2 separate regions of the Homo sapiens genome follow, and region 2 is linked to region 1. The links come from fine-mapping of genetic effects on plasma protein levels. A gene starts in region 1. The other region holds a variant in brackets. All regions are shown on one strand. Distances are from middle to middle.

Evidence for each region. PIP is the chance, under the fine-mapping model, that this variant and not a neighbour inherited with it causes the effect. Protein levels are from antibody-based Olink assays in UK Biobank. Linkage for the fine-mapping came from a reference panel and not from the study's own genotypes, which makes the PIPs less certain.
Region 2: its variant is fine-mapped to the plasma level of the ITGA11 protein (UK Biobank, PIP above 0.99). The variant lies in the coding sequence of ITGA11. If it changes the protein, the assay may bind it differently, which can mimic a change of level.

Annotation. Positions count from the first base shown.
Region 1 is chr15:68,427,332-68,435,641 of GRCh38, forward strand. ITGA11 (integrin subunit alpha 11) reads right to left here and starts at 4,832. Exons shown (of 30, transcript NM_001004439.2): 1 at 4,684-4,832. The coding sequence starts at 4,735. RefSeq lists an enhancer at 3,233-3,992 and a silencer at 6,539-6,833.
Region 2 is chr15:68,360,541-68,368,869 of GRCh38, forward strand. ITGA11 (integrin subunit alpha 11) reads right to left here. Exons shown (of 30, transcript NM_001004439.2): 4 at 4,167-4,258; 5 at 1,050-1,164. Among named protein-coding and RNA genes, the nearest start is that of ITGA11, 67 kb to the right of the region's middle. RefSeq lists an enhancer at 4,249-5,448. The variant C/T (reference allele first, on the strand shown) is at 4,238.

The DNA of each region.
Region 1 (8,310 bases):
CATTTAACCTGATTGTTGTCCTATGAAGTTGTTATTTTGCCCATTTTACAGTTGAGAAAACTGAGGCCTGGGGGCTTATCCCAGAGTCACCCAGGTAGAAAGGATTTGCATCCGGGCAGTCTAGGTCCTAAGCCCATGCACATGCCAATTATTTCTGCTGCTTGGTGAGTGCTTCAGTGAAGGAGGAAGTGAGAGGCAGCAGGGAGGGGGTTTGGCCTCACTGACTTTTTCCTCCAGGTGGGATTTCACACGTCGTGTGACTCAGATCTTAAGTATATAGTATGAAAACTCTCCATGGAATTTTTTTGCAGCTCACTTATTTTAGATTTACAAGATGACCAGCACCAGTCTCCTCCTCTCCTTCTCCTGTCAGTGGTAACAAACTTAATGGGCATTTGACAAAGAATTCACACAGTTAGGATCTGCATGATGGGGTTGTGGAGGGTCGCCCTTGGACCACAGCTCCTATAGAAAGCACTCCATGCTGAAGATGTGTGGGTGTCTTTGGAGCTCACAGCTGCTTAGGGAAAAGTTCCAAATGGCTATGAATCCTTGGTGGTAGCCTACATACAGTTGGTGGGGAGTGGGTGGGCCTGGAAGGGGACTTCAGTGATGAGGATCAGCAGAGATACCATTTTTGAACCATATTAGAGGATTTTTAAGGCTCATTTTGTAGCTGACCTTCCCTGAGTCAGCCAGAGCCCATCACTGCCTGGGGAGGGTTATGATGGATCCTAGAACAATGTTCGACTTTGACCCCCAAAGTAAGCTCTGGAAGCCCATGGTGAGACAATAACACCCAAAGTCAGGCATTGTGGAGAAGAAACAGGGGCTTTTAAAATTCCCCAAATTCCCTTCTGCATAGCAAGAGCAAAGCCAGCTCAGCTTAGAACATATTTTTATCCTAAGTGATAGGAGCTGGGGGTGTTGGTGGAAGGGAGGGAGAATGCAAGGGAAGGTCCCTGCTGTTAGAAGAAGGAAGAGCTCCCCACTACAGGAGGGTGGAAAAAGAGGTTCAGAGAGGGCAAGGTTGAGAGGTAAGATACTGTCTGAGTTCTTCCAGGGCTCACAGCCCTGTGTGGATGGGCTGGGAATGGTGGGAAGAGCATGGAGATAGACATCCCCTCTCTGGGGGTCCACTGTGGGGTAGAGATGGGGTCATGGTGAGTAAGCAGAAAAAGAGTGAGACTCCAGGGTCTGCTTGTGATATGGAAAGATCCAGAAGCTCCTCAGCTAATGGCAGCTGAGGGGCTTGGCTGTCAAAGTGGGCAATGGGGTGGCAAAGTGACAAACTTTCCCTTCTTCCCTGCTCTCCACTGGGAAGGAGAGGCTGGGAGCAAGTCTTGGACCTCTGGAGCCTTTGTACACCTGTGGTGTCTAGCACTGTGCTTTTCCACAGGTTGCTTTCTGTTGGGTAGGACCCCTACCCACAAGGGCCATGTTGCATGGTATGGGCCTTCTCCTTTTCCACACCACAATACACCCACATCAAGAGCATACTGACTTCAAGACAGCCCCGATGGTAAACAAACAAACAAAACAACAACCCTGAGTTCTTATTATGATCAAGAGTTTGGGCCAGGGCTTTGCGGGAGGGACTAGGAAAGTCTTCACTCATTTGGGGCCCTGGCATGTATGTCTCCTCTGATTCTTCAATGTACTTCCTCTAAACTTCTCTTGAGAACTTGAGTTTGAAAGTTATATCTCTGTGTCCTTAGATCCTGAATAGTCAATATCTTGAGTGCTACTGCTGCTGCTGATGATGTTGGAGAAGACAACCTCCTTGAGTGCTTAATACATGCCTGGCACTTTCTAAGCATTAATCTTTGTGATAACTCTAAGTTCTATTATTACCCCCACTTTGTAGGTGAGGAAACTGAGGCACAGAGCCATGGAGTAACTTGCCAAGAGCACAGAGCCCTAACCGGCAGGGGCTAGGCCAATCCCAGGCAGTGAAACTCCAGGGCCTCCACCCTTACGCTGTGTCTGATCTCACTTTGTGTCTTTATGGGGCCTGGCAGATAACAGGTGCTCAGCAAAGATTATGCTTCTAAGAATCATCACCCTTCCTACAGATAGGTTATGACTGTAAAGCTCTGGTCAATGGATCTCTCTCTTTGGACTTGATTACTTTTTTTTTAGGCTTTCCTGTTAGTTTTGTCTACCCCATCACGCTGTCCAGCCTGCAGCTGGAGCTCTGGGAGAGTAGATGCTCTGAGGTCTCACCCTCAACTTGGCCTCTGACAGGTTCCCTGCCCAGCCAAACTGCCATCACCAGTAGACAAGCTTCCTGGTAATCCTCACATTGAATTCATGTGATGCATGGATGAGGTATCAACATCAGTCCTGTCCTGGAGCCTGAGGAGTGAACCCAATGATCCCTGAGACCCTTCTAGTCTTCAAAGTCCACACTGACCAGAGTGGTTTTAAAATATTCATCATCTTCTTTAACTAGTCTCAGAAAATAATACTCCAAAATATGAACATTCCCACTTTCAGGCCCATGCACACTCTACACACTTTTCCAGGGCCAGTTCAAATGATATCTCCTCCTCCAGGAAGCCTTCCTTGCTTATCTGGCTGAAATTGAACTTCTCTTGTTTGAACACCCAGCCCTTGGTTTCCCCAAGCCATTCACTCCCTGGTGCCTCTGTTTAGCTTTCCCTGGCCTTGGCTTATTCTCAGTTACAGGCAGGACCCAGATTGCACACACGCTAGGGCCCCACCCCCAGCTCCTTGCAAGCAGATGTCATTGTTCCAACATTGATTGATATGTTTAATGAATCCCATATTTCAAGAATGCAACTGACCAGACATAACTCAGGAGTGGTTTTCGCCATATAAGCGGAGCTCTGAGTCACAAATCCTGTGTCTTCAGAGGTCCTTTAATGTCATTCTCTGCCCCCTCCTCCTTGAGTAGCAACAACATTAACAACCATTGATTAAAGCCTACTGTGCACCCAGCCCTGTGTTAAGGGCCTTTCTTACAGTGCCTTAGTGCATCCTGACAACTTTACAGGACACGGAATTTGTGTCTCCATTCTTCACATAAGGAAACCTGTTGGAAAGGTCGCATAACCAGTCCAAGATTGAACAGCTAGCAGGGTGCAGAGCCAGAAGTGGAAGCCAGGTCTGATTCCAAAGCCATTGCTCTTAGCTTCCTGAGGTCCAGGCTGTCCCTAGCCCCTAAGGCAGCCACTCCTTCCCAAGGTTCTGATGCAGCCACCTATCTGGAGTCACACAGGAGTGCGTCTCTTTTCTTGTGGCTGGATCTCCTAGTGATATGAGGACAGTTCCTGGAGAAGATTCTCCCCTCCTGTCTAAACACACCTAAATGGGCTTGGCCTCCTCCCGCAGCTGGCTTCTAGTTGCATATTGGCCTGGTGGCAGTTCTTCCCCTGCTCTCCCTTCCAAGCCCCCACAACTCAATGTATCAATGATTGTTTTAAACTGTGACTCTAGGATTCCACTAGCCAGAGGCCCTTTCAACCATGGGCCCTCTGAGAAGCTCCTCTGTAGGCCGACAGGAGGGTGGACTTGCTTCGCGTGGTACCCGGGGACTGGGGCAAGCGGCTGCGGGATAGGGGTCTCCACCTGAGCTCCCTGAGGGCACCTCTCCCACTACCACCGCATCTGACCCCCACTACTGGCCCCAGCTCGGGCCTGGAGCCCACGCAGAAGGGGAGGCAAGGTTGAGCGCCCACACCCGGCCAGTAACCGAGGCGCTGGCCCTTGCCGGAGCACTTGGCCGTCTTCCGCAGAACAGCATCACTGGCAGCCGCCCCGCGTGGAGGGTGGAGCCGGGGAGCCCGGTGTGGGACGGCCGGGGCCAGGGTACCCTAGGGCGGAGAGCTCAGGGCTGGCTTCCCGCTCCCAGCCGCGCGCCCCTCGGGCCGGAGGTTCCTGCCGCGCCCCGACACCTGGAGTGCATTAGGCGGCGGCGCGCGTCTAGGCGACGGCGGCTTTCCCCAGATTATTGAATAATTGCATAATTCCGAGCGCGGGTTGGGAGGCAATGCCGGGTCCCTACCCCGGGTGTCAGGTAACGTTTCGGGGGTCCTGCGCTGCGCGACTGTGTCCCGCCGCTGCTGGCCGGGCAGACGAGAGCTAGCCCCCGCCTACCGGCCATCGCCCCGGGGCTTTGCTCTGTCTTTGGCCGGAGGCACTCTGCGCAGCCCTCACCCCCACCCTTCAGCCCTCCGGGGCCGCCGCGCCCGGCTCTCCAAACTTTGAGATGCTTCCCCGGAGCCAGGCAGGAGGGCAGCCAGGGCACACTCTCTTGGCGCTGATTCCCTTCCCCAGCCGGGGCCGTGCGCCCTCGGCGCTCCCGGGACACCCGAGTGCCCCTGGCAGCCGTGCGGGAACCCCGGCATGGGCCTTGGAGGCACCTAAGGCGCCCAGGAGGGCCACCAGATCTGGGAGCTTTTCAACTCAAGCCTCTTCAACTCTTCCCAAACACACCAAAGAGTCCCGGCTTTCAATAGCCTTCGCACCTCCCTCTTTAGCGAAACTTGACTGAACCGCTAGACTGGGGCCAGTCCCTGGGGGACCCACGTCCCCAAGAGCAGCTGAGGTCTGACCCTGGGAGGAGGGTCGCGTCCCGATCCTGGCCGCTGGATCCAAGCCCCGAGGGCCCAGGGAGGGACTCCGAGAGGCAAGGGGAGGCAGAGGGTGGGCACCTACCTGGCCACAGGCTGAGCGCCCAGGCCACCACCAGGCCCCTGGGCAGGTCCATGGCCCGCGGCACGGCGGCTGGGTCCGGTGTGCAGCGGCGGCGGGGGGCGGCAAGCCAGAGCGGCAGCCTCCTCGGCGCGGCGCCTGCAGCCTGCACTGCGCGGGGCGCCGGGCTCCCTGACAGCTGCGGCTCATTCAGAGGAAGTGGGAGGGCTCGAGCGGAGGGGAGGGGCGCCGGACACCACTCCGGCTCGGGCTCTGGGCCAGTCTCGGCCGCTCTGCCACCTGGGCAGGCGGCGCGCTGCCTCGACGCGCCTGTGCAGCGCTCCTTCTCCGCCAACCCCACGTCAGCCTCTGGAGAAAACTCCAGAGAACCGCTCCTGGGAACCCCCTCACCAGTGTAGCACCGCACCGCCTCAGTCAGATTCTGTTCAGGAAAAGTGGTTTTTATTCCCATTTCCCAGTGAAAAGAGATTCACAAAACTCAGAGGGTACCCAAGCTGGCTCAGGAACACCTGCTGGAACGCAGGTCTCCCTTGGCCAAGTGAGTGGATGTCCCTCAAAGGTCCATTCTAAGACATCCCCGTGTCTCCCTGCACCCTGCGGCTTGAATTGTAGAGGCTAGTGTTTCTTCTGACCCTGGAATACATGCAGATTCGCCTCCACTGCCACTCCCTGAGCCTCCACACCTGAGGCATTCCAAAGCACCCAGGGACACCGTGCACCCCCTCTTAACCTAACGTGAAGCTCTTCTTTGTAACCCTGCCACCTTCTTTCCCTCTTCTAATCACTGGTAGTTAAATTCAATGCACATTTATCTCAAGAGCTTTAAATCCAGGCCCCGGACCTCCACCGCGCTTGTGGAGGCTTTTCCAGCAATGGAGGAAGCCGAGGCAGAGGGTAGGAAGGCCAAGATGCAGGGAAAGCCACAGCAGAGCGCCCTTCCCCCACTTTCTCAGGAAAGGCTTCCTTCACCCCCTCTTCCCGTCCCCACCAGGTTGAGTCCCAGACACATGCTGATATTCCCCAGCCCGCTCTCCCTCATTTCTCTTCATTGTGCTTAGTAGAGAAGCAAGGCATCAATTGGTGTGATCATTTAACTTTTCTCTCCTGTGCAGACTGAAAACACCATCAGGGTAGAAATCTCTGGTTCACAATGGAGTACTCAGCCCCTAACACCCAGGAACAAAGTAGGTGGGCGGGTGGATGGATGGGTGAGTACAGGTGGTGTGTGGGTGCACAAAGGATAGAGTTTTCTATCTGGGAGGTATTGGAAGGGCTTCCCAGAGGAGGTGATGTTCAGTCAGGGCCCCTGAAGATGAGCTGGAGTTTGAGAAGACCCAGGTTCACATAAGTGAAGTGGGCTTGTGCTCGTCTCCCAACCTCACTATCTTTCGGTTGGCTATCTGGGTTTTACTTCATCTTCACCTCACCCATTCAGCCACAGACTCGGGGAAGGTGATTCCGTCCCTGGTGTGTGTGTGTGTGTGTGTGTGTGTGTAAGGAGGCATGCGGTTCAGGCTGAAATGAATCAGTATGTTGCCCTTCCCAGCCCATCGTTTCAGAAAGGGCAATATGACAAAAGAAAAAGTTTTTTTGGGAAGCAAGCTTTCTTGCCTTTCTAAAAGAGCCCCTAGAACAAACAAACAAATGAACTAACTCTCTCTCCTCACCTCTCCCACTCCTGCCTCCTCTCCCAGCCTGGGACAAGGAACTTTGTAGGCTCAGAAGTTGACAGGGTCAGGGTAGGGAAGGAGGATCTGGCCTTGAGATGAGGTGGACACTGGATGACAGAATGGAGGATCTTGTTGAACTCCTGAATGAAGCCACCCCTTAACCCCACTCCCCTTGGGACTTATCAGTTATACGACAGTGAGTCCTCTTCACTGAGTTGAGTTTAAGCCAGCTGAGTTGAATGTAGAACACCCCTACAGCTAGGGAATGGGCTGCAGCCCACATTCCTGCCTTGCACAAATCTCCAGGTGCATCAGAACGACCTGGAGCACGTGCAAAGAATGCAAATTCCCCAAGGATCAGGGCATGCTGGTGGGTGCCCCAGGCACCTCTGACGTGTGGGTGGTCTGCAGCTTGTGCTCAGAGTCTGCATGCTGCTTGCTGAAGGGGCGCACTGTAGTGGCTGTCCTAGCTGCGCTGCTGCTGGTCTCGCTGGTAACAATTCTACCATTCATTCACCTTCACCGTCCTCACAGGTGCCTGGGGAATGGGGGTCCTGAGGATCACTCTGTGTGCTTTTGTGTAATGTGGGAGGGTGAGGGGAGAGGTGTGCCCTCATTTGTTCTTTCAACAGATCCTACAGAGTGCCTACTGTGCCCCTGTGCTCTGTAGGACACACGGAAGGAGAACCCCACACTAGGGCAGCTGGTGATGGAGCTGAGGAGACAAGACATAACCATGTATTTATTTAATCATAATCTGTTATTTATTAATCTATTTAAAACCATTTATTATTTCATCACTATTAAACATTATTTAAATCACACCCAAGGCAGCAGCATATGAGTGACAAGTGCACAATCCAGACTCTAAGGCTGGAGAACTGCAGAGAATTTGGTGAAGGGCTTTATGAAAGCTGTGATTTCTGTTGAATAATAATAATAACTCTTTACATGTACACAGTGTTTTAACTGATTTATTTATTCACATGCCATAAACTGTGCCATAGAATCCAGTAGTTGTTAGTATATTCACAAGATTGTAAAATCATCCTCACTAATTTCACAATATTTTTATCACCCCAAAAAGAAGCCCTGTAACCATGAGCAGTCACTCCCCATTCCTTCCCACCAGTCCCTGGCAACCACAAATCTATTTCTATGGATTTGCCTATTCTGGACGTTGCATATAAATGAAATCATATAATACGTGACCTTTTGAGTCTGGCTTCTTTCCCTTAGCATGATGTTTCCAAGGTTCATCCATGTTGCAACATGTATCAGTATTTCATTCCTTTTTATTGCCAAGTAACATTCCATTGTATGGATCTACCCCCTTTTGTTTATCCATTCATCAGGTGAGGCTTATTTAGGTGTTTCCACTTTAGGTTATTGTGAATAATGTGGCTATGAACACTTGTGCTGCCGGTCTTGCTGGTAGCAGTTCTACCATCCATTAACATAGCATAATGTTAGCATAATGTTCATACAAGTTTTTGTATGAATGTATGTTTTCAGTTCTCTTGGGTATACACCTAGGAGTGGAATTGCTGATCATATAGTAATTTTATGTTTAATCATTTGAGGAACTGCCAAACTATTTTCCACAGTTGCTACATCATTTTAGATTCCTACCAACAATGTACAAGTGCTATGTATAGTGTTTTACTATTTTTGAAATCCCTTTCATATCCATGATCTAATTTAATACTCATCTTGTACAAAATTGTATTTATTTTTTATAGTAAAGAGATTGTATAGTTGAAGATTCTTTCACTTGCAAGTGACAGAAATTCAACACAATCAAACTGAAGCAGAAAATAGAATGTAAAAGGTCATGTAACTAGGAAGTGCAAAGGTGTTCTGTCTGCAGGTGTGGCTGGATCAAGGGTCTCAAATCAATGTTACTGCTCTCTCTCTGTCTTCTCTTAGTTTTGCTTCACTCCATTTTCCTTTCCTGCAG
Region 2 (8,329 bases), 67 kb before region 1:
TGGGGTGCCCTGGAATCTGCATTTGGTAAGCTTCAGAGCAATGCTGCTGGTCAGCCAGGTGAGGAGGCCTCCACCACATGAGGTTCAGGGACCATAGGATGGTCACATCTAGGCCTGGAGGGACTAGCTCTAGGGGTGGTGACATTCCCCGGTGGGCCCCTCACGTACCCTGACCTCAGGCCTCCTCCTGTGCCCTGGCTCTGCCATTTCCTCTGTCATTTTGTGTGAATAGAATCCATGTCTCATTATCCCCCAGAAAGACGACCTTTCTGCCCCTGCTGGACTGATGCTTCCTCCTCCTCCCTTCCCCAGCCCCATCTGACTCGGCCTTGTTGTCTGGAGGGCGGCTGCAGGCAAGCCAGAGGTGCCAATTCCCGAACCCTCCATAAAACGGGCAGCAGCTGCTTGGGTGATGGTATTTAGTGCAGAGGAAATAGTGAGGCTCAGAGCCAAGAAGTCTGGGCTTGTGGGAGGCAGGGTCTGAGCAGTAATTCCCCAGGTTTTCTTCGCAGGTGGGCAATGAGCAAGAGGTTTTACGTTCCATGAGGCTCTGGACGAGCTGGACAGAACTCCCTGCTGTCCAGGAGCACTGATTTGGTGGAACTACTACCAAGGAGATTTCTGTTCTCCCTGTTCCTTCATCTACAAGGCTACTGCATTGCACAACATCAGGGGGCGCCATTCATATGTCTAAGTGAACAATTCCCCCAGAATTGTGCAGTGCACAGCTTGTCTGCTGCATGTGCTTGCCAGGTAACCTCCTATATACCCAGGGTTTCTGCAGTGAGCCTCCCTTGAGGCTGGGATTGTCTTTGAAACCTTAGCTCATTTGCTCTCCACCATCACACTTGGGAGAGGGAGGCCAGGATTATGACTCCCACAGAGGCCCAGAGAGTGGAGTGATACATTCCAGGTCATCCGGAGAGCTGGGGCAGGACAGTGCTAGAGTCCAAATACTGCTTTCTAGCCACAGGTTGTTGTGCTCAGGGCCCAAGTCTCTCTGGACTGTCCACTGCTCAGCTTGAGGTTGCAGATTTGAAGCCACTTACTTTGGAGAGCTGGGGCCACGGTCTTGGAGAACCTGAAGTTGGAGTTGACTCTTGAACACATCCCTGTGGTGTAGTAGGAGCTCCCACACTCATGAGACCAGAGGGGGCTGCAGGCCTGGGGAGGGCAGTGCAGATCCCCAGTCAGTGAGGGGACCTCAGAGAGGATCGAGGTCCAATGGCCTGAGGCCCACTCCCATCCTCCACGACCCAAGACAGACTTCTATCTGAGGGGTGAGGGGGTGAGGGATCTTCTTTGGGTCTAACTGAACTCTCTCTTGCTGCAATGTGTACTAGTTCCTTTGGTTTCAGGTCTAATGGAGAAAAACTGATCTTGGAGTCTCTTTCATTGTTTTTTCAAGGCCCTGTTCTCCATCTCATCATTTAGGAATATGATACTTCTTCACCCTACCTGCCCACCCCACTCACCCACCCACCATACGGGATCTGGGGAAGCCTTTTCACCCACGGGTGTGAACACTTCAAGGGTCACTAGAATAACTCCTCTGTCTGAGAGGTCGCCTGAAGGGCCTTACTGGGCAAACTTCTAGGACTGGGTCCCAAAAACATGCCATGGCTCATACTGGGGCAGGGGAAGATAAGAATGTCTGTATTCTTTCTGTGAAATGTTCTACCAAAAACACTGATGTCAGTCCCCATTGAAGGACTGAGTGAAGGGTTCTTCTCAGAGTCATTGTCATTAAAAATGAAAGCTCAGCTCCATGCTTCCATTGTTATCCTGCTATCAGGAAACCCAGAGCTAAATTTTGTGCTGTAATTTCCTTTGGTTTAGGGGAGTAATTATTCTACTTCCGATCCCTTTCTTTAATTACTTTCTTTTTAAGCTCAGATCTTAAAGGTTATGTTTTATCTGTGTACTTTGTTGAAGCTGCTGTACATAATGTTTGGAAGTGGCAGGGGACAGAGGGGAATAAAGAATGGATAGATGGATGGATGGATAAGTGGATGGATAGACAGATGATAGATGGATGGATAAGTGGGTGGTAGATGGATGGATGAATGATGTATAGATGGATGGATGAATGATGTATAGATGGATGATGAATGGATGGATGGATAAATGGATGGAAGATGGATGGAAGGATGATGGATAGATGTGAATGGATGGACAGATAGATGAATGGATAATGGATGGATGATGGATAGTGGACAGATGATGGATGAATGGATGATGAATGAATGGGTGAATGAATGATGGCTGGATAGATGATGGATGAATTAGTGGATGGATGATGGATGGATAGATGATCCATGTATGAATGGGTGGATGAATGATAATGGATGGATGATAGATGGTTGATGGATGAATGGGTGGATGGATGATGGATGAATGGATGATGGATGAATGGATGATGGATGAATAAGTGGATGAATGACAGATGGATGATGGATGGTTGATGGATGGATGGATGATGAATTGATGGGTGGATGAATGATAGATGATGGAGGTTGATGGATGGATGCAGGAAGGAATAAATGGAAAGATGGATGATTACATGGGAGATTGATGGTGGATCGATGTATAGACAGATGGGTAGATGAATGCATGGGTGGTTGGATAGATGAATGGAGGAATGAATTGTTGAGAGGGGAATGGACAGATGAGTGAATCAATGAACAGGTGACTATCTATAAACCAAGGATTAACCTACTCACAGAGGCCCCAGAGAATATATCACACCATTCCTCTCAGACCTTCATACCACCTTGTGAAGAAGAAATGTGATAAGGAGCCTGAGAGGGAAAAGGGAGTAGAGACAAAGCCCCTGACGGATATGTGTGTGGATAGGGCCAGGGGTCCTGCTTTGCCTCTGGTTATGGCTAATAAAGGGCTGTGGGCTGAATATACATCAAGGCACCTCATGACTTTCCCTGGCAGGGCCACTATGCACTCAAGTCCCCTTGCATCCCAGTCATCGTCTTATCTTTATGTCTTATTTGTCTTATCTAATTTGTCTTGTGATTCATGCCCCAGATGTCTCATTTGTCAGCAGAAATAGACCAGAACAAAGACTGACACAAGCACCCCATCTAAAAATGGGCAGTAATTTGTACTGGGCTTTCTGGGGTAAATTTTCTCTGAAGTCCTCTCCTGCAACTGTTTCTAGGAACCATCAGTCTCAGAAGGATCCTGTTTGAACCCCAAGCATCGCCCATACTCAACGCAGCTCACTCCAAGGTGGTGGCAAGGAGCAGGCAGTGCCAATCCATTGTGCCGCCCACACTCACTACCATGTGCAGAGTCCATATGTGCTCACCTGGGCACAGAACAGAGACCTGTAAGCAGAGCCTGCTGCTGTCTGTCCCCCAAAGTCCTATTAGACATTACTCGTTTGCTTGTCGCCTCTCTTTCCACCACAGTGTAAGCTCCAGCAGGACAGGGTCTCTATTCATTGCTGAATCCCGGTGCCCAGCACTGGGCTTAGCACATACTATGGTAAGTGCTCAGAAACATCATTGTTTAAATGAATGAATGTTTCTACCACCTCAACCCAGACATGCCCTTTTCTTCCTTGCGAAGGCCTGTCTCTTCTTTAAAAACAAAACAGAAACCTCCTCCAGCCTTCTTCATCTAATCCTGGATAGTTGAGACGGCTTGTCACTCTGTAGCCCTTCCCTCGGCTGTGGTAGTCTGTGTTTACTCATTTATGGCATCCCTTCCAAGTCTTCTTTGGGTGTGTGGTGCAGCCTGCTTCTTTTTTCAAGCCTAGAGCAGAGATTTGACCTCCAGCCCAGACAACTAGCTCCCCAAGGAAAGGGACAGTCCCCCACCAGACTTGTTGGCTATCTACATTTATTCTTGTCCCCTTTCTGGCTGTTCCTCCCTCCTTCGGGATATGCACACAAAAGGGCTCAATTGTTTCTTCTGCCTGGACTGTCCCTGCCAAAACACCCAGGGCCCTGCCACCCGGAATGGCATAAGCAGGGAGCTGGCGGGGGAGCTGCTTCCTGGAATGCACAGGGCCAGGCAGCTTGGTGGTTGGAGTGGGGGAGAGTGGGTGTACAGGATGGACATGAGGGTGTGTAAGGAGACGCTCCACCCCTCCCCACCCCCACCCCTGCCTCTCCTGACCCCAAGCAGTGGCAGGTGGCTCTTACCAGGAAGCTGTTGTCCTTGGGGTTGGTGGCGAGACTAAGGCCGAGGCGCATGTTGTCTTTCCGCTCGGACA[C/T]GTTGGACAGGGTGACCCTTCCTGGGGTTGGGGGAGAAGTTCAGCTTGCAGCCCCCTCCTGCCCGCCCTCTGCCCAGAGCCTGCTGCTGGTCTGGTCACCCGAGGTGCCTCCCCGATTCTCCCTGACCCTGGGGACCTCTGGCTCTCAGGGTTTACAAAGGCCTTCCCCAGACGTACTCTCAGGACATCCTCACAACTGCCTGTGAGATGAGAAAACCGAGTCTCAGAGAGGCCAAACAACCTGCCCAAGGTCACACAGTGAGCACTCACCGAGCCTTCTATCTCCTAGCCCACAGCTTTTCCTCCTCCAGCCATCCGACTGGAGCCCCACTTCCCCGTGTGCCCCCAAGCATGCCATGGCATCCCACCTGGGCTGGCTTCCTTTGTGCAGTATCCCCGCTACGCTTTCTTCCAAGTTGACCCCCATCCACACTTAACCAGTCCTGTGCCCAACTCTTTCTGTGCCCACTTCTCTGCTCATCTGAACAATCAACATGTGACAGCTGAGAGTTTCCTCTCATGGGTAACAGAGCCAACTCAACGAGAGCCTTCCAGAGCTGCCAGGCCTTGCCCAGGAATGCCATTCTGAAGGAGGCTGCCAAGAGAGGTGCTTAGGAGCTGGGTTATCAGCCTGCTGGGAATAGGGAGAGGGTCAGCTCTGCGGCAGATTAGAATCATAAAAAAATTGCATCGCTTAAGGTTTTACCAGATCATCCTGGAGGCCACCGAAGGAAAGGAAGTGAGTCTGAATTCCCCAGAAGTGTGTTGGGGTGTGTGTGTGTGTGTGTGTGTGTGTGCACGTGTACAGGAAGAGGGAGTGGGAGAGGCTGGGGAGCTAGAGTGTGCAAGCCCTAATATGCAGTGTGGACAGCTCTGGGTGGCTTCCCTGCCTGGGGAAGGAGTAATTTCTTTTCTTTTCTCTTTTCTTTTTTTTTAATTTTCCCTTCCCTCCCCTCCCTTTTCTTTTCTTTTTTTTGAGGCAGGGTCTCACTGTGTCACCCAGGCTAGAGTGGAGTGGCACCATCGTGGCTCACTGCAATCTCCAACTCCCAGGTTCGAGCAATGGGAGGAATAATTTCTAAGGAGGCCTTGAGCAAGAATGGGTTGCATTGCACTGTGTCGGTGACTGGAAGTGTGAAGAGTCGGCCTGGCTCCCAGGGCACACAGGTCAGGAAGGCCAGCTGGTGCAGGAGTCTGGGGGTGGGCCGCTGGCAGAGCCCAGCTTGTCAGACACAGACTGTTTTGTGGACTGGAGGGTAGGGGCAGCTGTGTTTGTTGTTTTTTCCTTTTTGGTTTTCCTCAGTTTGAAGCAAGGCTCCTTTTGAAATCTGCCCTTCTTGGCTGTGCTAAGAATGACTGGGCTCGATTTCTCTTTTGTCTGCCCAAACAAGCTGGAGAGAAAATAACAGTAAAGCCCCGGTGTTTCTGAGATGCCTTATCATCTACAAAGCACCGCGCACACCTGCCCTTTCAGGACCCCTCACGGTCCTGGGAGACCCAGGGGTCATCATTTCCATTTTACAGATGAGAACATTGAGGTGTAGAGAGGGTTAGTGACTGCCACAAGGTTACCTGCTGGGAAATTAAAGAGCAAGATCTTTAGCCCAGACCGTGTGACGTTTCATCCCGAGTTCTGTGTTTTCTCCCATCTGATGGCATCACGGTGGCAGTGGGAACTAGAGGGGCGGCTCCATGCTCCACTGGGCTGGGTAACCCTCGCCCCCTTCTGGCTAGAATTCTGCCCTCCGTTTATTTAAGGAACGCAGACCTCACCACCCTGCCCCTCTCCTTCCTCCCTCTCCCCTGGGACTGATGTTTGTAGTGAAACTGTGCAGCTGGCTGAGACAGAGGGGCAGGGGAGGAAAAATCCCTGTGTTGGAGTTAGACAGACTCAGGTTCAAGTCTTTGCCCAACCCCTCTGTGAGCGGGAGAGACTCACGCCTTCCTCAGCAGGTCTGGGTGAGGGTCCCGGGCCCAGATATCTCCCTACACAGGCCCTGGCTTTGAGAATCACATCACCTCCCCCAGCCCCTGCCCCTCATTGAAAACCCTGACTTTATCCAGGTGTTGGAAGGACAGTGCCAGTGGTAGAGTCTTTCCCACAGAGGTGTGAATGGCTGACACCCACTTAGCCTTCCCTGGAGAAAAAGGAAAGAACATTCCTGGCATCGTGCTGCCCAGTGCCTGGAACGGCCGTAGGAAAACCCAGGACTCAGGTTTCCCAGCCTTGCATTTTCCACTGTGGGGCAAAACTGACAGATGTTCTTTCTGCCATGCATTTTCTTCTCAGTGGGAGAGAGAGAACCACACCTCAAATGAAGAGTAATTTTCCTCCATCCCAACTCACTTTGCTACCCACTGCCTCCTAGGCTTGTGCCCCAGCTCAGAAATGCTTTCCAGGGTCTCATGGCTTTATGTCTCCTCCTCCCTCTGGAGAGAAATGGGGTCCACATTGCAACAGAGAAAAAAAAAGATTGGTTCACGAATCCACGTCCCTGCCTGGACCAGGAGCTTCTCTTGGTGGCTGAAGCCCTGAGAAGACTGCCCACTCTTCCACCACACCCCAACCTCATTGCCTCTGTCCCAACCACATGGCCTTTCTTTATCTTCTCCAACAGGGCAGACTTGTTCCTACCTTAGGGCGTTTGCACTTGCTCCTCCTTTGTCTGGAGTGCTCCGCCCCCACCTGTAACCTTCTCAAAAACTACCTGCTCAGAGAAGCCTTCCCTGATCACCTTCTATGGTAGAAATCCCTCTCCACTTCCATCACCCCCTAGCCACTCTTATTACAGCACCTGGTTTATTGCACAGCATTGATCCCTGCCTAAAACTATCCTGCTTCTTAATTTGCCTACCCGATTACTGTCCCCTTCCTTGGCCTCTTGTTCCCCACCATATCCCCAATAAATAGTACAGTGTTTGGTACACTCTAGGTGCGCATTAAAGGTTCGGAAACAGATTAGACCTGGAATGGATCCTAAGGGTTGTCGAGTCCAGCCTCCTTGCTTTACACACGAGTAAACTGAGGCTCAGAGAGAGGATGTGAACTCCGCATGGACACACAGCAAAGAATTTGTACAGCTGGAAGGGGACTCCAGGTTGGCCAGTTTCAGAAGCCTGTGTTCTCAGGGTGCTGATGACCTGGAACCATATGCCACCAACCAGGCACCCTCTTCCCTTAGACGATTTCCTCACTGAAGTTTGGGCCCCGGCTATGCTGGGTTTTGAACTTCCCACCCATGGTGCTGATGCAGATGTGGACAGCGGGAGCCTCCGGGACCATGTGACAGACAGCTGGCTGCCCTGGGGAGTTCTTTGGGCTTTCTTTTGGATGCTGACCTTTTCATCCATCAGCTTATCTCTTGAACCTCTGCCATTCCCGCCCAGTGAGACCCTGCTGCCCTTCCCATCCCCCATCTCCCAGGGAGACCCACCCCACTGCTCTGGGGTGGAGACCCCGCTCCTCGAAGGAGGGAGGCCCAGGGTCCTGGCCCTAGGGAAGTCCAGTCCTCCAGGGCAAAGCCTAGAATTGCAGCTTGTCAGCCAAAATGGAACTTTTTCTCCCTTCTGAGAGCAGAGCAAGCAATGACCCAGCTGCTGTCTGACCTTTAGGACAAGTGGGAGCACTTTAGTGGACTGGTGTGTGTGCTTAGTGGATACACATTTGCACACACATAAGCAGATACACACATGCATGCAAACACACACGAGTAGATTTTAGGAGGGCTTCGGAGGCTGGGGGCTGTTCACAGCATCTCCCTGTTCCAGAATATGCCTGAAAGCTCTTTGGCGAGGAAAAGCTTGCATTTCCGAAGGGCAGTGCTGCATGGTGGTTAAAGGGAGGCCATAGCCTGCATGAACTGGACGCCAAGCCCTGCTCCTTGTGAGCTGAGTGACCCCGGGCAGGTCCCCTCACCTCTGTATGCTGTCATTTCCTATCTGTTAAATGGTTAAATCCCATATGGGTGTTGTGAGGATTAAATGAGTCCAAATGTGCCTCACACATGGTGAACATTATCGAAGATATCTGAATGTTAGCTATTGTTGTTATTATTTCAAAATCAGGAAAAAGACAGGAAGTCCTTTTTTTTT